Homo sapiens: one gene and its partners. The protein of the gene in region 1 interacts with the protein of each later gene in a pairwise test. Each region holds a gene or a part of one and is shown in the gene's direction. Other genes may lie near its edges. The genes, in order: USP54, SEC24A, ZCCHC14, DMRT3, LMNA, PLA2G6 and IGFN1.

Region 1 (3,500 bases):
GGAAAGCCCAAGCCATTAGAGATCAACAAACTTAAATAATATCAGTGGCTAGGTTTGTAGGTAATCATACCTTTGGAGAATTTCACTTCCTTGCCCAAGTTGAGTGTTCATCACAGTAGAGGTCAGGGTACAAAGTACCAGTGCATTGAAGGTTGTCCACTAGGTCAGTTCAGGAAAAATGTAAAAACAGATTTTAAATACATGGTACAAAAATAAAAAGGTATAAAAGCATATATGGTGAAAACCAAGTCTGTCTTCTACCAGCCCTTCAGATTCAGTTTCCCTCCTAAGAGGTACTCATTTTTCCAATTTTTAAAAATCAGCCGAGGCCAGGCGTGGTGGCTCATGCCTGTAATCCCAGCACTTTGGGAGGCCAAGGATGGTGGATCACCTGAGGTCAGGAGTTCGAGACCAGCCTGGCCAACATGGCAAAAATATAAAAATTAGCCAGGCATGGTGGGGGGTGCTTGTAGTCCTAGCTACTCGGGAGGCTGAGGCAGGAGAATCGCTTGAATCCGGGTGGCAGAGGTTGCAGTGAGCTGAGATTGAGCCACTGCACTCCAGCCTGGGTAACAGAGCAAGACTCTGTCTCAAAAACAAAACAAAACAAACAAAAAAACCCAGCCGAATTTATAGTAAGTTTCATTCAATTTATCGTTCATAAATTCCTAAGCAATTCTGATCAGGCTGCCATTCTTTTTTGGAAAAGGTGGACTCTCCTGCCTAGCATTTGTTCTCATGTACTTTCAATTCATTTAATGGCAAATTGTTCTTTTCCTAGGAGAGTTGGCTTCCTTTCTTCTGACTTCTGTATCATTCATTGATTCATTCTTTTAAATAAATGCTTATTGATTCTGTACAAGATTCCTAGCACAAAAATAAACAAATAAATAAGTGCTTATTGAGTGTGTTCTAGGTATTGTGCTAGGTGCTGGAGCTACAATGGTGAGTTAGATATAGTCCCTGCTTTTATGGAGCTTACAGTCTACAGTGAGGGACGGATAAATAAACAAACAGTTATAATGTGTTAAGGATTTGATCCTATGGGAACATAATAGAAGGGATATTTAAATCAGGCTTGAGGTATCATGGAAGGCTTCCTGGAGGAAGCAAAAAGAATATAGCAAGTAAAAGGGACCTGAGCAAATATTAACTGAATTAAAAGAAGCTTATTTAGTATGGCAGGATTAGAAAGTCTGGCAAGGGGAGATGATGGAGAGTGTTGACAAGAGAGGATACAAAGAATATTATGGACCACAGACAGCCCTGTATGTCACAGTAAGTAGTTTGGAAGGATAGAGATAAGTCGATGTATTTGAGACCCAGTTAGGAAGTAAACATCAGTGGGAGTTGGTGCCTGCCTGGATGTTGGGAGTGGGGATAAAGGATGATACTCAAGTTTTATGGGTAGATAATGATATATTTGAGGGAAGATATGCATTCAGTTTTACATATATTAAGCTTGAGTGGAGGTATCTGGCAGGCTTTTGGAATGAGATATATAAGCTGCAAATTGAAATCTGGGAATCATAGCCATTGAAAAAGAGGAAAAGACTTGCAGAAAGAGAAGAGGAGCCAGGACATATCCCTAAAGAGCATCAGATTTAAGGTGGTTCTTCTGAAGAACCCTAAAAGGAGACTGAGAAAAAAAGATTAGAGAGACTGAAGGGAAACCAAGGATGTGTGGTACCATAGTCACCAAGGGGAGAGTGTTTCAAGAAGAAAGGAATAGCCGGGCGCGGTGGCTCACGCCTGTAATCCCAGCACTTTGGGAGGCTGAGGCGGGCAGATCATAAGGTCAGGAGATTGAGACCATCCTGGCTAACACAGTGAAATGCCGTCTCTACTAAAAATACAAAAAAATTAGCTGGGCGCGGTGGCGGGTGCCTGTAGTCCCAGCTACTTGGGAAGCTGAGGCAGGAGAATGGTGTGAACCCAGGAGGCAGAGCTTGCAGTGAGTGAGCCGAGATTGCGCCACTGCACTCCAGCCTGGGTGACAGAGCGAGACTCCGTCTCAAAAAAAAAAAGAAGAAAGGAATAATTAGCTGTGTCACATGCTGAGAGGACTGGCACCTGGTCCTTAGGCAGTATGATAAATGCTTACTTTGTGCCATTTTGTAGTAGGTGCTGTGAGCATACACTGATGAAACAACACAAATTCTGCCCTTGAGTAGCTTGCAGTCTCGTAAAGGAAATTAGACATACTGGCATATAGATTATTTTATTTAATGTATTATTACTAAGTGCCCACATTGTTCTAGGCACTGTTCAAGGTGCTGCGGATACAGAAGTAAAAAGAAATAGGGGAGAAGACAATAAACAAATAAATGACATAATGCCAGACAATGATAAGTATGATAAAGAATAATAAGGCAAGAGAATAAAGAGTAAAGAGGTAATAGTGGTTTTTTTGAGGGCTATTCCTGATAGTAGGGTAGTGAGGGAAATCAGCTCTAAGGAAGTAACTTTTGATTAGAGATCTCAGTGATATGAAAGTATGAGCCATCAGAAGAATATTCTTGGTAACAGAAACAGGAAGTATAAAGACTCTGAGGTAGCAATGAGCTTGGTGTGTTTGAGGAATATTAAAGTTAGAGTGTAAAAGCTCCAGGAATGATAGGAAATAAAGTGAGGAGCAGCAGGGCCATATCACACAGGACCTTGTAGGCCACAGTAAGGAGGAGTGGATGGGAGATAGGAAAAGCAGATTGAAGGCTGTTGCAGTAGTCCAGGTGAATTTAAATATAAAACCCATAGGTAGAAATGATAGTCCTTGGCAAGTAATGGAATTGTGGATGGGAAGTGGGAAATCAAGGTCATTGCCAATGTTTGAATATGGGTGATTTAGGAAAATGAGGTGCCAGGAGGAGGAGTTTGGAAGGATTTTGGTTCAATTTTGGATATGTTAGTGTTTCAGATGTTAAAGGGGAATATTTCTGGGTATTTATCATAAAAGTAGATAACTAATAGGGAGTAGAGCAGGACATTAGCATCAGTAAATACAAACTTGACAGGCAAAAGAGGAAGCTGTGGAATGTGTAGCAGTGACAGGAGAGAAGATGGGGTAGAGTTCTTGATTCTACATTTAAACATATATAGTTTCATTCCCAGTACTTAGAATAAGTGAAGGATTTTTTTTTCTCATTCTCTCAGGCTTTCTGAATTTCTCATATTTCGTTTTTATTTTTAAATTTCTATCTCAATCTCTCTAATTCTACTGTTAGCATTAAGGAGTTTGCTAAAGACCTGAATGATAGGGTTGGGAAGGTGAGGGATATGAGGAAGACTGGTTAAGGGATAAGGATCTGAAGTTTGCAGTTTCTTAGAGGGCTAGCAGGGAGAGCAACTGAGTAAATTGGGTCCTGTTCCAGAACAAGGCATGTAGGCATGTTTGTGCTCTGGTTCCCTCCATTTCCCTTTGCTTGCCTCACTGTGTTTACCCAACTACATCCTGCTTTGTGTTAATCCTCATCTCTATGTTTTTTTGTCTTGTCTCATTA
Region 2 (3,312 bases), on another chromosome or scaffold:
GTGCTAGGACCTGGGAGGTTGAGGCTGAAGTGAGCAGTGATTATGCTGCTGCACTCCCGCCTGGGCAACAGAGCAAGAACCTGTCTCAAAAAATAAATAAATAAAAGACTGCTGTGTCAGGATTATAGCTAGGATAAGCACTGGCTTTCAGGCCTTAAACAGAACTACTGGGCTGGATGACTAAGCGTTTTAGGTAATGAGTAAGAAATTGTTATATTTTTAATAATAACTGAACGAATCAATTAATTCTTGACGTCATGCTAAAATGAAGGGAAGAACTAAGAGGTTTTTTTAGATGAGGGCTTAGAAACTATGCCCAAGGGGTACCTGCTACTTGTTTTTGTAAATAAGGTTTTATTGGAACATCCATGCCTGTTCACTTATGTATTGTTTATGGCTACTTTGGTGTAACAATGGCAAGGTTGCCCGGGCGTGGTGGCTCACACCTGTAATCTCAGCGCTTTGGGAGGCCGAGGCTGGCGAATCACCTGAGGTCGGGAGTTCAAGACCAGCCTGCCCAACATGGAGAAACCCCCGTCTCAAGGCGAGGTGGGCGAATGACCTGAGGTCAGGAGTTCGAGACCAGCCTGGCCAACATGGAGAAACCCCCATCTCTACTAAAAATACAAAATTAGCCGGGTGTGGTGGCGCACACCTGTAATCCCAACTACTCTCCCAGCTACTCTGGAGGCTGAGGCAGGAGAATCTCTGGCAGGCGAATCGCTTGAATCTGGGAGGCAGAGGTTGCAGTGAGCCAATATCACGCCATTGCACTCCAGCCTGGGCAACAAGAGCGAAACTCTGTCTCAAAAAATAAAAAACAATGGCAAAGTTAAGTAGTTGCAGCAGAGACCAAATGATCTGCAAGCCTAAAGTACTTACTATATGGGCCTTTAAGAAGTTTGCCTACTCCTGTTCTAGAATATTCGTAGAAAATTGTGTTCCCAAGTCAAGTTGCACTGGCATCACTGCAGGAATTTTTTAGGAAAGCAAAATCTCAGGACCACAACCCTGCCCCAGACCTCCTAAATCATTATCTGTAGTTCAAGAAGATGATCAGGTGATTCATATACATGTTAAAATTCAAGACCAGGCATGGTGGCTCACACCTGTTATCCCAGAACTTTGGGAGGCCGAGGTGGGCAGATTGCTTAAGCCCAGGAGTTCAAGACCAGCCTGAGCAACGTGGTGAGATACTCGTCTCTACTAAAAATACAAAAATTACCTGGCAGGTGGCACACGCCTCTTATTCCAGCTACTTGGTGGGGCTGAGGTGAGAGAATCACTTGAGCCTCAGGAGGCAGTGGAGGTTACAGTGAGCCATGATCACACCAGTGCACTTCAGCCTGGGCAACAGAGCAAGACCTTGTCTCAAAAAATAAGTTAAATTTGAGAAGTAGACCGGGCACTGTGGCTCACTCCTGTAATCCCAGCACTTCGGGAGGCCGAGGCAGGTGTATCGCCTGAGCCCAGGAGTTCGAAATCAGCCTGGGCAACATGGCAAAACCCATCTCTACAAGAAATATAAAAATTAGCCAGGCATGGTGGCACGCATCTGTAGTCCCAACTATTCAGAAGGCTATGGTGGGAGGATCACCGGAGCCTGGAGGTTGAGACTGCAGTGAGCCATGATTATGCCACTGCACTCCAGCCTGTCAACAGAGGCCTTGTCTCAAAAAAGAAAAAAAATGTAATTAAAAAAATAAAAATTTGAAAAGTACCATAGACCATACATTAGATATGTAATTAAAGTAATTGGATATTGTTGGTTTTGGTTAACAGACAGACCTTCCAGAACTTGATACACCAGAATCTGCCAGAATAATAGCTTTCATCTCTTGGCTTAGAGAGCAGAGACCATTTTTCCCAATACTTTATGTAATAAGGTAAGTTGAATTTTCCATTTGCTAGTAGTAAAACAATTTGTTTGGCCTTGCCAGGACCTGACAAGAGTATAGCAAAAAAAAAGAAGAAAGAAAAAGAGTTCTTCTCAATAAATAGCAGTAAATCATACCTTATATCCAATGATTGGAAATACAGAACTTTTTTCATTTTTAATTGACTAATAATAAGTGTATATATTTATGGGGTACACTAATTTATTGATACATGTATACATTGTGGAATGATCAAATTCGGCTAATTAACATATTCATCTTCTCAGCCAATTATTGTTTCCTTGTGGTGAGAACATTTAAAATCCATTATTTTGCCTATTTTAAAATATACAATACATCATTATTAACCATAGTCATCATACTGTGTAATAGATCACCAGAATCCATTCATCCTAACTGAAATTTTGTACCCTTTGACTAACATTTCTTCTTTCCTTCTCCATAGCCACTTCCTGCCTCCTAGCCTCTAATAACCATAATTCTACTTTCTACTTATATGAGTTCAACTTTTTTAGGTTCCACACATAAGTAAGATCGTGTGGTGTTTGTCTCTCTGTGCCTGGTTTATTTCACTCAGCATAATGTCACAAATGACAGAATTTCCTGTTTTTTAAAGGCTGAAGTCGCCGGGCGCGGTGGCTCATGCCTGTAATCCCAGCACTTTGAGAGGTCGAGGCGGGCAGATCACCTGAGGTTGGGAGTTCGAGACCAGCCTGACCAACATGGAGAAACCCCGTCTCTACTAAAAATACAAAATTAGCCTGGCATGGTGGCACATGCCTGTAATCCCAGCTACTCGGGAGGCTGAGGCAGGAGAATAGCTTGAACCCAGGAGGTGGAGGTTGTGGTGAGCCAGGATCGTGCCATTGCACTCCAGCCTGGGCAACAAGAGTAAAACTCCATCTCAAAAAAAAAAAAAAGGCTCGGTAGAATTCCATTGTATATATATACCACATTTGAAAAATCCATTCAGTTATTTCCATATCGTGGCTATTGTGATTAATGCTGCAGTGATCATGGAAGTGCAGACATCTCTTTGATATACTGATTTCAATTCCTTTGGATATATATTCAGAAATGGAATTTCTGGATCAACTATTTCTCTTAATTCCACCATAAGCTTTTCCCTTAAACAACTTGAAATTTACATAATCAACCAAGTATTCTCAGAGAAAGCCTCTAGAAGTAACTGTTTATATAGTAAATGTTATTAGGGTTATGAGGAAATCAAAAGCCTTCTGACAAGTCTATTTTACTGCTACATTTTATCTAAATTTTTTTGCCTTTTATTCCTAAGGGATGAGAGTCCAATGAAAGCAAACTTCCTTCAAAACATGATAGAAGACAGAACAGAATCTGCATTATCATATTATGAATTCCTGTTGCATATACAGCAACAAGTGAATAAATGAAT
Region 3 (3,500 bases), on another chromosome or scaffold:
TTGTTACTTTTCAGTCCCCCAGGTTTCCTTGGCAAAGGCTGGGGGAGAGAGGCATGCTCAGGTGGCTGAGTGGGTAGAGACTTCACCTAGTTCTACCTTTATCTGTTTTTATTTATTTATTTATTTTATTATTATTTTTTTAAGAGACTGGATCTTGCTCTCGCCCAGGCTGGGTTGTGGTGGTACCATCATCACAGCTCACTGCAGCCTTGACCTCCTGGTGCTCAAGTGGTCCTCCCACGTTTATCTTTACAAATATCTGGTTCAGCAGATACCATTGAACAGAAAGTTCCACTACTAAATAAATGCCTCTTTGCCTCCGTGTGCATGTGTACACACAGTTGTAACTGCACACGTGTTTAGGGCCCACTGGCCTGTGCTGTAGCGTGAACGACTGTCTCAGCCAAAGTGATGCCTCTCAGGCAGTCAGCTTTGTGAATGGGATAACATATGTAAATGTCTCCAAAGAGAGCCTTACTTTTCATTATAAAGCCAAGGCCTCATCCTGCAGGAGAACATGGAGTGAGGACGATGTCTGATTACACTTATCTTTTTGGCCTCTTGGGCATTGAAGAACACGACAGTGCCACGCCTTCGAGGGTAACACACACCCCCCCCCGGGAATCTGCTTTTCCCTCTGTAGTGTTTAAAATACTAAATCTCCTCGCCTCTGTGTGTAGTTTCCCCTTTTGTTAAACACAGCTTCCCTGGACTCCACTCCTGCCGGCTGGAACTTCGACCTCTCATTGGGCTTTTGTCTCAGTGTTTTGTTTTGTTTTTTTTTTCTTTGAGATGGAGTCTCACTCTGTTGTCCAGACTGGAGTGCAGTGGTATGATCTTGGCTCACTGCAACCTCCACCTCCCGGCTTCAAGCAATTCTCCTGCCTTAGTCTCCCAAGTTGCTGGGATCACAGGTGCACACCACCACGCCCAGCTCTCTCTCTTTTTTTTTTTTTTAATTTTTAGTAGAGACAGTTTCACCATGTTGGCCAGGCTGCTCTTGAACTCCTGACCTCAGGTGATCTGTCCTCCTCGGCCTCCCAGAGTACTGGTGTTACAGGTGTGAGCCACTGCACCTGGCCTAATTTTGGAAAATTCTTATCCATTTTCTCCTCAAGCATTTCTTCTGCCGCATCCTCCCCTCTCCTGGACTCTGGCGGCACGAGCCTCAGACCCCTGGTGCTGCCGCCCCACGGCTCTCCCATGCTTGTGCATTTCTCTGTGTGTACGTCTGGGTGGTTCCTGTGCCCGTTTCCACACCAGCCGATCCCCTCAGTTCTGCCCAGGCTGCTGTGGAGCCTGTCCATGTACTCAAGTCCTCATTTCTGCTGCCAGGGGTTTCTTTTGTGTTTTTGCCCCTAGGTTTTCCATTTGACGTGTTCATGAAGTTTCCATCTCTCTGCTGAAACGTGTTCATGAAAGTTCCCGCTTGTTTGTGCATATTGTCGTTTTCACTAGGTCCTTTAGTACATCCATCATAGCTGTTTAAAGTCCCTGTCACTAGGTCCCACATCTGAGTTATTTCTGAATCTGGTTCTAATGATTGCTTTATCTCTTGACAATAGTTTTTTCCCCCTTTATTCCTTTTTTTTTTGGTATGTCTTGCAAATGTTGACTGAATGTCAGACATGTTTAGATGACCGTGGAGCCGGAGGAGAGCGAGATTTATGCCTGGAAAGGGTCAACACCTCTTCTGCCAGGGCCCTTAGTGGGGTCCTGGAGGCCATCTGGGCAGGATGAAGCTGGCACTGGGCTCTCTTGCTGCCTCTGTTACCCTCAGGGCCTCTCCAGTGAAGGCAGCTGCTGCCTGAGTCTGGAGGGTCTTCTCCGCCGTTTTGCTTCACTCCCAGCTTTCAGCCGTCCCTGCAGGCCTGTGGCACACAGCAGGGCACTCTCTACCCTCTCGGCCCCTTTTCGGGGGTAGACCGCTGCTGCTTGTTTGCGACCTGGTGCTGGGCTTGTGGGGGCAAGGGCCTTCACTCTTGCAGCCCAGCCTGATCCTGGGCAGGCCTGTGTGCCTGGGCTTCGGGGTGGCACTTCCTCAGTGCCTTGCCCTCCCCGGCAGGAGCTGACCTCCTCCAGCACCAGAGCGCTTTTGCTTTTCCCCTTCTTCCAGGAGCAGCGGGTCTTCTTGTGACTGGTGGCAGAGGAAGGGAAGTATTGTCCCTGCCCCACTCCTAAAAACCGGGCCTTTGGTTTGGGCTCTGGGGCCAGGAGCAATTTTTGTCCCTCCTGCAACGTCTTAAGGGCTTTTCCTCAGATCCAGAGAGTGGTCCCGGGAATTGCACTAGGCCTGGTGCCCGGTCCCCAGGTGCCACCGATGGGGCTCTCTCTGGCTCCTCCTGCGGAAAGGAACTTGGAAAGAAGGGCCCACTTGCCCCGCCTGGGGCTCCGGCATTTCTGTTGGCCACGTCAGCCTGTGGCAGTGTGTCCATCGGAACCTGTCTCTCCAGACCTGCTGGTGTGGCAGCCACCAGGGCCTTGTGCCCTGGCTTGTCATGGGAGCAGGTCCCGTTTGAAATTAAGTTGACTTAGTGGCCCAGCAACTCTCAGATGGGCTCAAGGAACATTGTGATTGTGCAGATTGTCAAGCTTTTCCGGATGTAACTGTGAGAGCGATGTTCTTTTGTGACTTTCTACACCCTAAGTGGATGTGGGCCCCAGAATAGCTCTGACGGGAGGTGTAAATCATATCAGACCAGCAGGCGGCACCATGGAGCACCTGCCCCAGGTTTTCCTGCAGTAGCAGAATTCTGCTGGTGTTGGATGGGTCTGGACACACCTCCTCTACCTTGTCCTCTCTTCCAGCTATGTCAGCTCTATCCTGAAGAGAACTTGGAGAAACTCATTCCTTGCTTAGCTGGTCCGGACGCATTTTATGTGGAGCGAAACCACGTGGATCTGGACTCAGGCCTGAGGTGAGGCCCTTACCAGGCACCCGGCGCGTCCACAGCTGGCAAGGACAGGCTGGTCCTGTGGTCAATGCTGTGGTCCTCCAAGGAGCTCTGGGAGGATGCGCGGTCACCTGGACCTGGGTCTCTACTTGGCCTCTAGGGATTTCCATTAGTTCTGGAGGATTCGGGAGCCCTCAGTAAGCTGAGAGTGGTTCTGAGTGTGTGAGGAAGGGAATTCCAGGGTGGGTCCCACCACGTCTTGGGCTTTGGCAGTCCTGTGAAATAATCCTGGGCTGCTGTTTCCATCCTGTAGTCCAAGGTTGAGACTATTCCCAGATAAAATTGGCGTCTCTTAAACAGTTTCTCTGGACCCTCGATCGTGTCTTGGCTCACGTGGCACACGAAGTAACATGGCCGACCAGTTCCGTAAATGTGCTGCTGCCGGGGCCCTGGGGACCAGTGTCCAAGCACCTTTCTGGCTGGTGGGTGGCACTGATCTCATGTCACAGGGCATGACTGCTGTCGTCAACCTTGGTGGCCATGAATACAGCATTGAGAGGAAGGGCTTGAAGAAGCAGTGGCAGTCGGGCAAGAACTCAGTTGAAT
Region 4 (3,500 bases), on another chromosome or scaffold:
ATAAAAGGCACAATCAAGTACCAAGTAACAATAATAATAATGAAAAACTTAAGAGTCGGCACATCAATTCTTTACAAAATCTCCAATCTCTTGATTACAACAACTAGGCAGACATAAATTTTACAGAGCTGGGATTAGTGTTCCACGTTTTTCCCACTGATTATTACTTTGTTTAGTTCAGTATATATCTCTAGCACCCATAATCTTTATATGTAAGCATTTAAAACAATATTTCCTCCTGTGAAGACACCATGGTCTGCCCAGCTGCTATCCTTGGAATTATTTGCTGTATTTCACTGTGAAATATAACCAACTGCAGCTTACTTGGAATTTTGCAAAAGATTAGTTAGTAAACTGTATGCCTCTCAGTGGTCAAGAGGCAATGCTTTGATCATCTCTGTATGATCTTACCCAGCACAGTACATGAGAGCATAGTAAGGCATTTAGGGGCATTTGTTAAATAGATGGATGAGTTAGACAGGTGCATTTTGGAAGGTACCAAATAAACATGTAGATTTGTAGGTAATTTCCCCTCTGCTTCTTGGAAGGTATTCCCTTCTGAGTCAAGAAAGAGATCAAAACTAATTTTTTACAAAATATGTGAGGTCCACAGTTGCAAACCATACTTCCTTCAGCCCAGTCCTGTCTATAGCAATATTCCCCCAAAATATAGTGTCAAGGAACCACTCTGATTCCTTCATACGTTATTAATTCAGTGTTGTTAATGATTTTTTAAAAAGTAAAGCATGGCTAGTTTTTTTTTTTTTTTTAACTTTTCACAACCCTCCCCAACCCGGCAATCCACCCCAGGAAGAAAAGGAAAGTTTTTAGATCGAGATCATTCCCTGGTGTTCTTTAGATTTTCAACTATTCATTTTTTTAAAATAATTCATCACTTCTAGTGTGAGATGAAGGTAAGAGAAAATGTGAAGCGTTTGTCTACGATTAGAATTCTGATTAGGCAATGGTCTCCTGTAAAAGTCTCATCCTGCCTGGGCTCCCTCCCTTGCCATTGTTGTAAGATTTATGTGCTTTGAAAACTACCCATCAAGGACCTGTTATTTACAGGTGTGTTCCCCACAGCTCAAGTGAACAGATGAGGATATGACAATCTATGTTTCAAAATGCGTGACATGATTTCAAAAGGGATGGGGGAGTCCAGTGACTTTTGAGCTAGGAAATATTCCTCTCTGCTCGAGTTTTTCTGTGTTTTCATTCTGTATGTAAGAACTATTTTGTTTTCGTAGATATAATTGGATAGAATGGATATAACCTATGACATCTAAGTCAGAAAGATTTTTCACATTTTTTTTTTTTTATTTAGACAGTCTAATTCTGTCGCCGCAGCTGGAGTGCAGTGGTGAGATCTGCAGCTCACTGCAAGCTCTGCCTCCCGGGTTCACGCCATTCTCCTGCCTCAGCCTCCTGAGTAGCTGGGACTACAGGCACCTGCCACCATGCTCGGCTATTTTTTTTTGTATTTTTAGTAGAGATGAGGTTTCACCATGTTAGCCAGATGGTCTTGATCTCCTGACCTCGTGATCCACCTGCCTCGGCCTCCCAAAGTGCTGGGATTACAGGTGTGAGCCACCGCGCCCAGCCAGATTTTTCACTTTTATGCATCGTGAGCAGAATGTTTGTTTCTCATATGTGGTAGACTTTCTCAAAGTATTTGAAATAATACATTTTTTTTTTACTAAATTGCATTTTTATGTGAAAAACTCCCCTAAAGAAAGTTACATTTTCAAACTGTAATTTTAGATTGAAAGCACTTTTGTGAGTGTTTATTTTCTCTCTTTAAAGTCTTGTAGCAAAAAAAGAAAAAAAAGTATTGTAGTCATCTTATGGCATATATATTTTGAAGTCGGTAGCATTGTTATCTGTAGAAAAACTTTTCTTTTTAATTGAATATCTACTTCTTTTAAAAACCTCTTTACCCTAGTGCACAGTTTATTTCAGGGATAGCTATAAGTGTTTCTACCCCATGAAATATGAAATGGAAGAGAGAATATTAAGATTTTAAAAATATGTACATGTTTAGCAATAGAAACAGCATATTGTATCACTTTCAGTAATATTTGTCATATTCGATAAAATTGATTTCTTCCCTGTTTAATAGCTTTGACTTTCTATACCCATCTACCGGGGTAAAAATATTATCAGTTGATATACACTCTTAATGTTCTAGGAATTAGGGTTTCAGTTTCAAGAAGAAAGAAGGTAAAATGTTTCAGGAGTATTTCCTATTTTATTTTGTTAGTTGGCAGTTTCACATTTCTATGTCTAGAAAGGCCTTTATGTTTTAAACCAACTAGAATGATTTGTAAAGTTTATTTAAGAACAAATCTGGAGATGTAAAGAAGTACCTGTTATTAAATTACACTTTATCACTGGGCTCAAAACTCACCCTCTATAATTACCTGTGAAAGTCTGTATTTATAATAGAATAATTTACAATATATTTAGTTTAGGTGCAATAATACAACCAGTACTAGACACCATAGCGCCACAAAATTGCAGGAACTATATATCCTGCCCTTCAGAAATTATTGTTTGGTGAGGAGTTATTCTTGGTGCAAAGTTAGAGGCTAGTCTTCCTTTGCCTAGTTTTGAAACTCCAACAGCCTTACATGTTGATGGGGATTTGGCTCACCCAGCACTACTTAGCAGGACCTTGTGTGCGGCTCAGGTGCATAAGCCTCACAGGTGTGCTCTGCTTGTTCTTTCATCATCTTTGTCTTTCCTTTGAACACAGTGTAAGCAGTGCTGAGCTCAGCTGGTTGGTTGGTTTACGCTGAATTTGTAGATTTGATTCCTGTGACATTGTGTTAGCTTTTCTCATATTTTGGCTATAGCCAGACGGCACAGAGACCTGCGGAGAGAGCATGGAGGATTCGGTGTAATCTATCACCACTCCTTGACAAGTAACCAGAAGTGCATGATGCACTAGCATGTCCCAGTAGCAGGGGCAAAGGGTAACACAACAAAATGAGAAAGTGACTTTCACAGTCTGAGAGTTCACAATTGCTGAACAAGCTGGCACTGACATAAGATTCCACTACCGTCTGTTCCGCAGAACTTAGGAAAATAGGTACAAGAGTGGAATTTTATATTGTCAGACTTGTAATCCTGGTATCAAGTATTCAGTTGATTGGGACAGTATATCTGTTGCTACCTTGAAAAAAAAAAGCCTCCATTTTTGTAATGGTAGAGTCATTATGTTAGTGAGAACCTCATTCCCTAATTCCCCTTTCAGTTAGCCTTCTGCTGTTTGATCCACTTTTTTTCTGGAGACTGAAGTGTACTGTGGAAGAGTCAATTTGGTTGACAGACCTGAGAAAACACTTCCTAATATGTTTTCAGTGTTTGAAACTTATCTAAAGTGGGGGCAGGGGATGTACCTTTTAAAACACAAAGCTATTTGGTTCATATATTTCTTTTAAAAATAGTTGAGCTGGCCGGGCGTGGTGGCTGACTCCTGTAATCCCAGCACTTTGGGA
Region 5 (3,500 bases), on another chromosome or scaffold:
AGCAGTGGTTACTTTGCCGGGTTGGGGGGGAGGTAGGGGCTATCAAACCTCATGATTGGCCGCACACAAAGGTGTGAGTATGTGTATATTTGAGGGTGGGTGGGAGTGGCACTTTCACTAGGCCTCCGTATCACTCTCTGACTGGGGTATCTCCCAGCAAGCGAGACAGAGGCAGACACGCTTCCCAGACTGTCTTACTGGGTCTCTCTGTGTTATTCTCTGCAGTGTCTGTGTGTATCGTGCCATTTTCTATGTTTTGCACCAATCTGCTGTGAGTGTCCTCAGGTGACCTGGGGGCAGGTTTTTAGTGCCTGAGCCTACCCGTCTCCAGGCTTTAGTTTCCCCCTGTAAAAGTATAGGAGTTGGTTCAAGAGAAGGTTCCTCTAGAAGCCTTGAGCCTGTGAACCGTCTAGTCTCCGGGTATTTGTGGGACACACAGAAAAAGCCCCACGACCCAACAGGTAGAACACTGGCTGAAATCAGCAGGGCAGAGCTGAGACAGGCTCAAGTAGGCTGAGGGGTAGGGAGGTTTTGGGTGAATGGGAGGGAGGGACAGAGAGAAGGAGGATATATTGCAGTAGGAGGAGTTGCTGGAACAAAAGGAGGGGTGGTAGGAGTGGCTTGGGGTGGCAGCAGAAGACGCCCTGTCACATGGCGGGAAGTCAGCCTGGGCAGAGGTCTAGGTGTCCAGGAGGGGCTGGGTGTGGTGGCTCACGCCTGTAATCCCAGGACTTTGGGAGGCTGATGCAGGAGGATCACGTGAGGTCAGGAGTTCAAGACCAGCCTGGCCAACATGGCGAAACCCTATCTCTACTAAAAATGCCAAAAATTAGCTGGGTGTGGTGGCAGGCGCCTGTAATCCCAGCTACTCTGGAGGCTGAGGCACAAGAATTGCTTGAACCTGGGAGGTGGAGGTTGCAGGGAGCCGAGATCGCGCCACTCTACTCTAGCCTGGGCAACACAGTGAGACTCTGTCTCAAAAATAATAATAATAGGGGCTGGGCGCGGTGGCTCATGACTGTAATCCCAGCATTTTGGGAGGTGGAGGCGGGTGGATCACCTGAGGTCAGGAGTCCGAGACCAGCCTGGCCAACATGGCAAAACTCCGTCTCTACTAAAAATAGAAAAATTAGCTAGGCATGGTGGTGCAGGCCTGTAATCCAGCTACTCGGGAGGCTGAGAAGCAGGAGAATCACTTGAACCTGGGAGGTGAAGGTTGCAGTGAGATCACCTGGGCGACAGAATGAGACTCCACCTCAAAATAATAATAATAGTAATAATAATAAATGAAAAATTTTAAAATTAAACAATTAAAAATTTTAAATTAAAATTAAACAAATTAGATGCCCAGGAGGATACAGGAGAGCATTTGCCACCAGGCGGACTCCCTGTACCCACCCGGCCACAGGGGGCGATGTTCCTGGGAGACAGGAAATGCCCAGGGGCTGGGAGACCCTCTGCTCTTCTGCTCCCTTCCTGTGTGCTGCCTGGCAATGGGGAACTCTGAGGGCTGGTGAGCAGGGCTGCTGAGGAGTGGGTCTAAGGAGTCCCTGCAGGGCTGGGCCAGCTCCTCCACCTCCCCTTTGTCTTCCCCTCCCACTTGTTATTTTTAGCTACAGTGTCTGTCCCTCTTGCTTCTCCCCCAGATTGGGAGAGGAAACGGAGGCCTCTCCCTCCGGGCCTAGCCTGTTGCCCCCAGCAACCGGGCCCAAACAGGCCTGTGGCCGGCCCTGGCTTCCATATCTGGCATCAGAGTTGGGCTGAGCAGGGTGACTCAGAGGGTGGGTCAGCGCCTGGCCCGGTGCCCACCTAGCCCCTTTGCTGTGCTGGTGCCTTTCTTCCCCAAACAGCCCCAAGGGCCCGGGCCTGCTGCAGCTGGGGAGCCGGACTTCCTTGTCCCACCAGGCACAGCTCTTCAGACCCCTGCCTTGGGTCACATTTGCAAGTGCCAACTCTCATTTCTACCTTATTCTTTTCCTCTCTGTTCCCCTCCCCACCCCCTCTCTTCCCTCTTTCTGAGATCAGATTTGCCAGTGATGGGAAGAGTTAGAAACAGGATGCCCAGCCCTTCTCGCCTCAAGAGGCCACTGGGATGCAGCCACTCCTGTGCTTGGGGAACCTGGAGGATGCAAGGGAAAGGACTGGCACTCTGCTGGCACAGCACCCGGCCTGGGGCAGGACACGGGCGAAGCCAGGGTCTCCCCTGTGAGCACTAGAGGATTTCCCGACCCCTGCCCGGGTATTGTGTGCCTGAGCATGAGTCACCTGAGGGGCCCAGGTTCCCACCCTTCCCAGCTCCTCTGGCCTGCCCCACCCTGTCCTCCCTGCCAACCCAGCACGGGGACGGCACTCAGCGTGTGCTCAGCTTTCCTGATGCCAACCCCCAGTGGAGTGGGCTGCACCACCACCCTGGGACCGAATGCCTGGCTAGGGTCTACTTTGGTCCCTGCTAGGTCTGAGGACCCCTCCTAGGAAGGAAATGGCACTTGGGGGCGGGGGCAGGGAGGAGGGAGGAGAGACACTGGGCTCTACTGTACCCCTAGTCATCTCTTGGGGTGTGCGTGTGGCTCCCTGGCCACAGAGCTCCCAAGGTCTGAGTCATGAGCCCATGGGTGATAGTGGCTTCTTCCCCGCAGATGGGAGCTCCCCGTGCCTAAGAAAACCACAAAGGTTCTTCCTCACTTCCCTCTCTGCTCGTGGTTTTTCTCATCTGCAGGGTGTGTCTTAGTCCTTTAATCTCCTCTCTTTGCAGTGCTAGTCAAAACCTCCACCAGGGAAAGACAAATAACCCCCTTACTGTTTTTTTTTTTTTTTTTTTTTTTTTTTGAGATGGAGTCTCGCTCTGTCACCCATGCTGTAGTGCAGTGGCACAATCTCGGCTCACTGCAACCTCCGCCTCCCAAGTTCAAGTGATCCTCCTACCTCAGCCTCCTCAGTAGCTGGGACTACAGGTGCACACCACCGTACCCAGCTAAATTTTTTTTTTTTTTTTTTGAGATAGAGTCTCACTCTGTCACCCAGGCTGGAGTACAGTGGTACAATCTCAACTCACTACAATCTCCGCCTCCCAGGCTCAAGCAATTCTCGTGTCTCAGCCTCCCAAGTTGCTGGGACTATGGACGTGCACCACCTTGCCCGACTAATTTTTGTATTTTTGATAGAGTCAGAGTTTCACCATGTTGGCAGGCTGGTCTCGAACTCCTGGCCTCAAGTGATCCACCTGCCTTGGCCTCCCAAAGTGCTGGGATTACAGGTGTGAGCCACCACACTCAGCCAGCCCCCTTACTTTCCTTGGAGACCATATACTGTGGCTTGTGCCAAAGTGGTACAGCATGGATTTCCAGCTCCCCTATCTACTTGCTGCGGGACCCTAGATATAGCTTTCTGTGCCTATTTCCTCAATTGCATAGGAATAGCACCTATCGCATAGGGTAGCTGTGAAGATGACGTGAGTTAACATAATATTTAGAGCAGTGCTTGGTACCTAATAAGCTCTATAT
Region 6 (3,500 bases), on another chromosome or scaffold:
TGGGCATGGAGGGGTGTCAGGCTGGGTTGGGAACCGTGCAGGCTGGAAGGGCACTCTGGTGCTCTGAGCATTCAGAGGGGGCAGCTGGGCCTTGAAGGATGAGCAGGGGCTCCAGCAGGAACTGGAGAGCGCATTCCAGGGAGGACGCAAGTGCAGGCCCCTTTCACTACAGAAAAGCAGTTTTCACACAGACCTTCCAAAGGGGAGGAGAGGGGACTGCCTGGGCCTGGCAGCTGCGGCAGGTAGCAGCAATCAGAGGGCAGGGACCGCTCCTCCCGTGCCTGAGACCTGCCCAGGGTCCTTCAGGGAATTCGTAGCTGAGGAGGAACCAGATTTTTGGGACTGAGTTCTCCCTCACCACCCGCTCTGAGCCACCCTCTTGGTCCCTTGTCCTCTACTGCACTTCTTCCGGGGCTTGGCTCCTCGTCATGAGAGGAGCTTCCCTGGGCATGGCGAGGGGCGTGACTGACATAGCAGCCCTGGACAAGTGGCTCCAGGTGACCTGTGTTCACGTTGATCACAGCACTAACCACGGCCCCTCCTCTCAGCACCTTCCCCTCTCGAGCCGTCCAGTCCCAGTGAAAATGCTCACCGTTCATGGGTGGGCTGAGCAAGCCCCTGATCTCTGCCTTCCTCCGTGTTCTGATCTGCTTCATCTGCTGTGAAGGCCTCTCGCCATTTCCCCCGCTGGCAAACTCCTGTTCTTCCTGGAAAGTTCAGCTAAAAAGTCATCCCCTTTAGGGGTCCTTCCCTCAGGGGACCGTGCACTTGGCGAGACAGGGACTGGTCTTGGGTCTCTCTGTTGACTGTTTTATGAACCCAGGTAGTCACTTCCAGGGAACTCATCAGAGATGCTACCATTGGCTCCAATCTCCCTCTGTTCCCACTCGAGGTTTTTTGTTTCTTCGTTTGTTTTTCTTTCTTTCTTTTTTTTTGAGACAGAGTCTCGCTCTCGCCCAGGCTGGAGTGCAGTGACATGATCTCGGCTCACTGCAAGCTCCGCCTCCCGGGTTCACGCCATTCTCCTGCCTCAGCCTCCCGAATAGCTGGGACTACAGGCACCCGCCACCACGCCCAGCTAATTTTTTTTGTATTTTTAGTAGAGACGGGGTTTCACCATGTTAGCCAGGATGGTCTCAATCTCCTGATTTCGTGATCCGCCCGCCTTAACCTCCCAAAGTGCTGGGATTACAGGCGTGAGCCACTGCGCCCAGCCCGTTTGTTTTTGTTTTTTGGTGGACATCAACTTTAATTTGCCCTTTGTTTTGTTTTGTTTTTGAGGCAGGGTCTTGCTCTGTCTCCCAGGCTGGAGTGCAGTAGTGCAATCTTGGCTCACTGCAGTCTCGACCTCAAGAGGATCAAGCAATCCTCTTGCCTTAGCCTCCCGAGTAGCTGGGACCACAGGCGCACACCACCATGCCCAGCTAATTTTATTTTATATTTTGTAGAGACAGGGTTTTGCCATGTTCCCCAGGCTGGTCTCAAATTCCTGGGCTCAAGCAATCCGTCTGCCTCAGCCTCCCAAAATGCTGGAATTACAGGCACGAGCCACTGTGCCCGGCCTTAATTTGCCCTTTGAACATGTACAATTCAGGGCCTCTCTGGGCCTCAGTTTCTTGATCTCTGAGATGGGAAGATGGGATAATAATACTTGTTCCTCCCGTCCTTCAGCTCCTCCAGGGGACCCTCACACCAGCACACTCTCTGTCAGTCTTCCCTCAATGAACCCAGCAGGCAAGCTTGGTTTTGACAGAGGATGGGTGAGCAGAGATAAGGAAAACGGCCAGAAATATCTGGCTTCCCTCAGCAGGGGCACCAAAATTGGTACCTGGAAATTGCCTGGCTTGGACAGGCAGAATTGTCACTGTCAACCCCCACCACCAAAGGTCTTGGGTCTTTGTCTTTCTGCTTGTGGTGTTTGAGAGAGCTGCTTGACACAGCCGAGGTGCGGTCTGTGTCAGGTGACCTGGGCATCCTGGGGGTGCAGGGAGAAGCCCAGGTAAGGAGGAGGAGGGGCCGGTCATCAGTGGGGAAAAGTGATTGTCTACCCCACGGGAAGGTCAAGGGTAGGACGCTGTGAGAAGCCAGGGGGAGAGATGAAGTGAGGCATGATGCGGGGGGCCCTCATCCACCATCCCCCTCTTGCAGCTGTGCTGGGAAGAGCCTAGGCTCCAGGGTCCAAGGTGGCAGGGACAGAAGGAAGCACGTGTGAGCACTTTCTCCCTGCTGGCCCGCCTTCCTGGTTGGCAATGCCGTGAGTGTTCCAGGATGTGGCCCCGTGGCTGTCATTTCCTTTCTTCCACCTAGTGATAACAATGGCCACTGTTTGTGTGCCCACAGTCGGCCTGTGTCCCAGACACCTTCCCTCCATTGCGTCATCTCGTCCTCCTGCCTACCCTGAAGGCTGGATGCCAGCCAAGCCTGTCGTTTCTGTGGCCATGCTGTCGTGGGTGTGTGGGGGGCATCCCCTAGCCCCAGGCTCTGGTGGGGGGTACACAGGCTGGGCCATTGACGAAGGGGTGTGTGGAATCTTTCTTTGATTTCACTGCACCCCTGGTGACTTTCTCCCTCAATCTGAGGCTCATGGGTGCTGGATGCTCTTGACTCTCTGCCCTTCCTGGGCGCACCCCTCCGCGTCCCTGTGGGCCCGTCCTCGGGGTAGCCTCTCTGCGCTCTTCCAGGCCAGGCCTGAGTCCCACAGGTCCCCATCTTCCCGGCTGCAGCCCCCAGAGGCTCAGCCTATACTGCTACTTCCTTTGAAAACTATAATCGCTTTACATAGCATCTGGAAAATAGGGAAAAGGAAAAAACAAAAGCCCATAAACCCAGCACCCTCATCTACTCAATGGCATGTTTTCTGTCAGTCTATCTTGGTTTGTTTTCTATCAGGCTTTGTTTTTTCTATGCATAATATTTACTCAGTTAAATTTTTGTTTTGACAAACTTTCTGTGAGCCAAGCTTGTGGACGGAGATGAAAAGACGAGCAGCTGCCTTTGAGAAACTCAGACTCTGGGCCAGCCCATCTGGGTGCCAGCTTTCACTGCTCCACCCACTAGCTGGGTGACCCTGGGCCCGTGACTTTACCCCTCTGTTCTTTGGTGTTCTCATATGTAAAATGAGGATAATAATAGTAACCAGTTCATAGAGTGGTTGTCAGACAGAATGATTAATGTACGTAAAGCTTTCAGGATGGTGCCAGCAAGATGCACAGGAGTGTTTGGTAGGAGGATGACGAAGCTTACCGTCTGGCAGGAGGGGCAGTTGTAACATGCTGGGCTGTGATAGTACAGATGTGTTTAAAGTGAGGGAGAGCCCAGAGCAAGGAGAGAGAACCTGGCATCTGGTGATGGTGTATCAAGAACATTTTAGGCCAGACACGGTGACTCACACCTGTAATCCCAGCACTTTGAGAGGCTGAGGCAGGCAGATCGCTTGAACCCGGGCGTTCGAGACCAGCCTGAGCAACGTGGTAAGACCCTGTCTTTATAATTTTTTTTTT
Region 7 (3,500 bases), on another chromosome or scaffold:
CCTGCTTCTTGGCTTCCTGAGAAGGAGCCCTTTCTCACTCTTTCTTCCCAGCTTTTCCCCAGTGACACACTCAGGGTCTTCCTAGGGTGCCCCACCCACTTCCTAGAGGCTCCATTCACACTGCCAGAGTGTGTGCCACCAGATTCCCACTAGAGAATTCAAAAGCACTGTGCACAGGCAGGAGGTACTACAAATAATCCTGACCCAAAAGTAGGAGCGAGAAGGGGCTTCTTGCTCCTGGGGTGAGTGGGTGGATGCCCATTCTGTTGAAGGGCCACCCAGGAGGAAGAAGGTGGAAGGCCCCATCTCCTTCCCTCCTGCATTCTCCAGGAAAGCTCCGGAAGTCCCACATCCCTGGAGTGAGCATCTGGCAGCTGGTGGAGGAGATCCCTGAAGGCTGCAGCACGCCGGACTTTGAGCAGAAGCCCGTCACCTCGGCTCTGCCAGAGGGTGAGCCCAGAGGGGAGCTGCGGAGGGGAGGCAAGATTCTTGCTCTCCTACCTCCCAGGGGAGAGGGCTGGGGCACCAACCTTCCTGGGGACCCAGGCCCTATATCCATCACTAGGCCATAGCCCATCTCCCTCCTATCCTTGAGGGGGTATGTGCTTACCTGGAACCCTAGAAGTGACAAGAGGCCTGGGGAAAAGAGTGGATAAAGAGAGTGAAGAGACACCATGCTATTCTGGTGTGAGAAATATCTGGGGGGCAGGGATGGAAAAATGCTAAACTGGGGAGCAGGGAGAGGTTGTGGTGTTTCCTGGTCCCTGTCTCCTCACCTCAAAGCCACTGCTGCAGAGAGGCACTGTTAAAACAGTTAATTTGACTCTTCCCAATCCTCGCCTCCAGGCAGCAGCACCTGCTGTGGCTCACAGGCTGGGCTCAGGAAGGCCCTTCTAGAAGGCCACATAAGAAGGTGTCCAAGAAAGTGGTGGGAACAAAGGCTTATTGGGGAAAAAGTGGGAATTGGTGTTCTTTCCCCAACACACACCCTGCAATAAATTTTAGTTCATAGCATCCTGGTAATAAGAAAAAGAATGGTATTTTATTTTTCTAAATCTGGAACAAGGTAATGAGAAATTGGGAAGGGCCCTTGGGCCTTTGGTCTATATTGCTGTCTACTGAGATGTTCCTGGTGGGAGGCTGAGGGATTCCTTGAGGGCGGGCAGTTCCCAGGCCTCCATGACAGGCATGGAGCATGGGGTCTTTTCTGAGGCTGAAGCCTGTGTCTCAGCACCGGATCCTTCGGGCACCAAATAGTCACTCCTTCTCCTAGTTGTGATTCCTCCTCCCCCTAGAGAGTAGGAAGGGAAGCCAGAAAATCTCTTCTTTTTTTTTTTTCTTTTTTTGAGATGGAGTCTCGCTCTGTTGCCCAGGCTGGAGTGCAGTGGCGCAATCTCTGATCACTACAACATCTGCCTCTGGGGTTCAAGTGATTCTCCTGCCTCAGCCTCCCAAGTAGCTGGGATTACAGGCACATGCCACCAAGCCTGGCTACTTTTTGTATTTTTAATAGAGATGGGGTTTCACCATGTTGGCCAGGCTGGTCTCGAACTCCTGATCTCAGGTGATACGACTGCCTTGGCCTCCCAAAGTGCTGGGATTACATGCGTGAGCCCCTGCGCCTGCCCGGAACTCACAAAATCTCATTCCCTTCCTAGTCTTGGCAGAGCCTTCAGACTCCTTGCTCACCCACTCTCAAAGAAAAGCCCCTGTCCCCTAAAGCCCTGCTGGCCTCCCCTTTCACCAGGGCCAGTCCACCTGTCTCTTTCCCTCAAGCAGCCCAAGCTTCTGCAATATAGAAAGAGGAAGCACTGCCTTCTGGGTGCCTGGAATCTGCTGCTTTCCACCTGCGTATTCTGAGTCCTGAGTCAAGGGGACCAAGGCCTGGCATCCTTTTTGGAAGGGGCAGTTGAAATACCTAGATGAGGAAGACGATATAAATTAAAATTTAAATAAAGTATACAGTCACCCTCTCCCAACTTGTCAGTCTCCCTACTCGTCTCTTCCTGCTGCAGGGAAAAATGCTGTCTTTCGGGCTGTGGTCTGTGGGGAGCCCAGGCCCGAGGTGCGTTGGCAGAACTCCAAAGGTGACCTCAGTGATTCCAGCAAGTACAAGATCTCCTCCAGCCCTGGCAGCAAGGAGCACGTGCTGCAGGTAAGAACCGTAGCTCTTCCCCTGACCAGGGTCTACTCGTCTTTTCCCATCCCCTTGAAGGTCTCTTTGGCAGCCTCCAATCCCTAGAGGAGTAAGACATACTCCTCGTTGAGGTTGAATCCATTCAACTCCATCTCGTGACTCAAAGTTGCCTGAGCCAAGAATGGATCTGGCAGGCTTGCAGATACCTCTGCTGATAACCTGGGAGGTGGTGTAGACTGGAGCTTAAGAGCTCAAGCTCTGAAGTCAGACTGCTGGAGTTACAATCCCAGGCCCACCACCTTGGCTTTAGAAAGTCATTTTACTCTTTTTACCTCTGTCTCCTCATTTGTAAAAATGGGATAATAATAGTACCTACTTTAAGGAGTTGTTATGAGTTGTTGTTGAGATGGATCTCACTCTGTCGCCCAGGCTGGAGTGCAATGGCGTGATCTTGGTTCTCTGCAACCTCCACCTCCCAGGTTCAAGCGATTCTCCTGCTTCAGCCTCCCAAGTAGCTGAGATTACAGGCATGCGCCATCACGCCCGACTAATTTTTGTATTTTTAGTAGAGTTGGGGTTTCACCATGTTGGCCAGGCTAGTCTTGAACTCCTGACCAACAATGATCCATCCGCCTCGGCATCCCAAAGTGCTGGGATTACAGACATGAGCCACTGCGCCTGGCCAGGAGTTGTTATGAGGATGAAAGTTTTATGTAAAGTGTCTAGCTAGTGCCTGGCCTATAGTGAGTACTCAATCAATCTTGGCTAATCTGAGCAATATTATAAATACTAACCATGGGATACCTACTATGTGCCAGGCCCTACTATGTCCCAGGGGCTAAATATTTGACATAGATTATATATTTAATTCTAATTATTCACCACTTTTTTGAGGTATTATATTCCCATCTTACAAATGAAGAAACTGAAGTTGAGAGAAGTTAGGTAACTTGCCCAAGGTCCCACAGCTAGTAATACAGGACAGAGACTGTTTTCAGGCCCAGATCCATCTGACCCCAAAAAGCACACTCTTTCTACTTCGCTACATTGCCTCTGATGGCAAAGAATTGATACATCCACCCTCTGTCCCAAACCAGGTTTCTGTTTTGGGGTCTGTCTTTCCTGATAAAGACTGTGAGCTCCATGAGGACAAGGACCATGTCTTACTCACTTTATACCCCCAACACATAGCCGTGTCTAGTAAATGGAGGAAGGGGATGTGGTAGCCCTGTTCCTCTGCCCTTGGCCTCTCTGCAGATCAACAAGCTGACAGGCGAGGACACGGATCTGTACCGCTGCACAGCAGTAAATGCGTACGGAGAGGCCGCTTGCTCAGTGAGACTCACTGTCATCGAAGGTGGGC

The links.
Region 2: the proteins of USP54 (region 1) and SEC24A interact in binary tests that used the Homo sapiens proteins (3 or more experiments, as listed by UniProt).
Region 3: the proteins of USP54 (region 1) and ZCCHC14 interact in binary tests that used the Homo sapiens proteins (3 or more experiments, as listed by UniProt).
Region 4: the proteins of USP54 (region 1) and DMRT3 interact in binary tests that used the Homo sapiens proteins (3 or more experiments, as listed by UniProt).
Region 5: the proteins of USP54 (region 1) and LMNA interact in binary tests that used the Homo sapiens proteins (3 or more experiments, as listed by UniProt).
Region 6: the proteins of USP54 (region 1) and PLA2G6 interact in binary tests that used the Homo sapiens proteins (3 or more experiments, as listed by UniProt).
Region 7: the proteins of USP54 (region 1) and IGFN1 interact in binary tests that used the Homo sapiens proteins (3 or more experiments, as listed by UniProt).

Annotation. Positions count from the first base shown.
Region 1 is NC_000010.11:73,500,843-73,504,342, reverse strand, and holds part of USP54 (ubiquitin carboxyl-terminal hydrolase 54), read left to right. Parts: intron 1-70; exon of another isoform or gene 71-159; intron 160-3,500.
Region 2 is NC_000005.10:134,721,785-134,725,096, forward strand, and holds part of SEC24A (protein transport protein Sec24A), read left to right. Parts: intron 1-1,782; coding exon 1,783-1,886; intron 1,887-3,195; coding exon 3,196-3,310; 3' UTR 3,311-3,312. UniProt on the Homo sapiens protein: Component of the coat protein complex II (COPII) which promotes the formation of transport vesicles from the endoplasmic reticulum (ER).
Region 3 is NC_000016.10:87,420,025-87,423,524, reverse strand, and holds part of ZCCHC14 (zinc finger CCHC domain-containing protein 14), read left to right. Parts: intron 1-2,808; coding exon 2,809-2,918; intron 2,919-3,500.
Region 4 is NC_000009.12:983,155-986,654, forward strand, and holds part of DMRT3 (doublesex- and mab-3-related transcription factor 3), read left to right. Parts: intron 1-3,500. UniProt on the Homo sapiens protein: Probable transcription factor that plays a role in configuring the spinal circuits controlling stride in vertebrates.
Region 5 is NC_000001.11:156,124,711-156,128,210, forward strand, and holds part of LMNA (lamin), read left to right. Parts: intron 1-1,459; exon of another isoform or gene 1,460-1,493; coding exon of another isoform or gene 1,494-1,513; intron 1,514-1,844; exon of another isoform or gene 1,845-1,941; intron 1,942-2,025; exon of another isoform or gene 2,026-2,092; coding exon of another isoform or gene 2,093-2,205; exon of another isoform or gene 2,206-2,239; intron 2,240-3,500.
Region 6 is NC_000022.11:38,171,831-38,175,330, reverse strand, and holds part of PLA2G6 (85/88 kDa calcium-independent phospholipase A2), read left to right. Parts: intron 1-3,500. UniProt on the Homo sapiens protein: Calcium-independent phospholipase involved in phospholipid remodeling with implications in cellular membrane homeostasis, mitochondrial integrity and signal transduction.
Region 7 is NC_000001.11:201,193,824-201,197,323, forward strand, and holds part of IGFN1 (immunoglobulin-like and fibronectin type III domain-containing protein 1), read left to right. Parts: intron 1-330; coding exon 331-450; intron 451-2,015; coding exon 2,016-2,155; intron 2,156-3,394; coding exon 3,395-3,494; intron 3,495-3,500.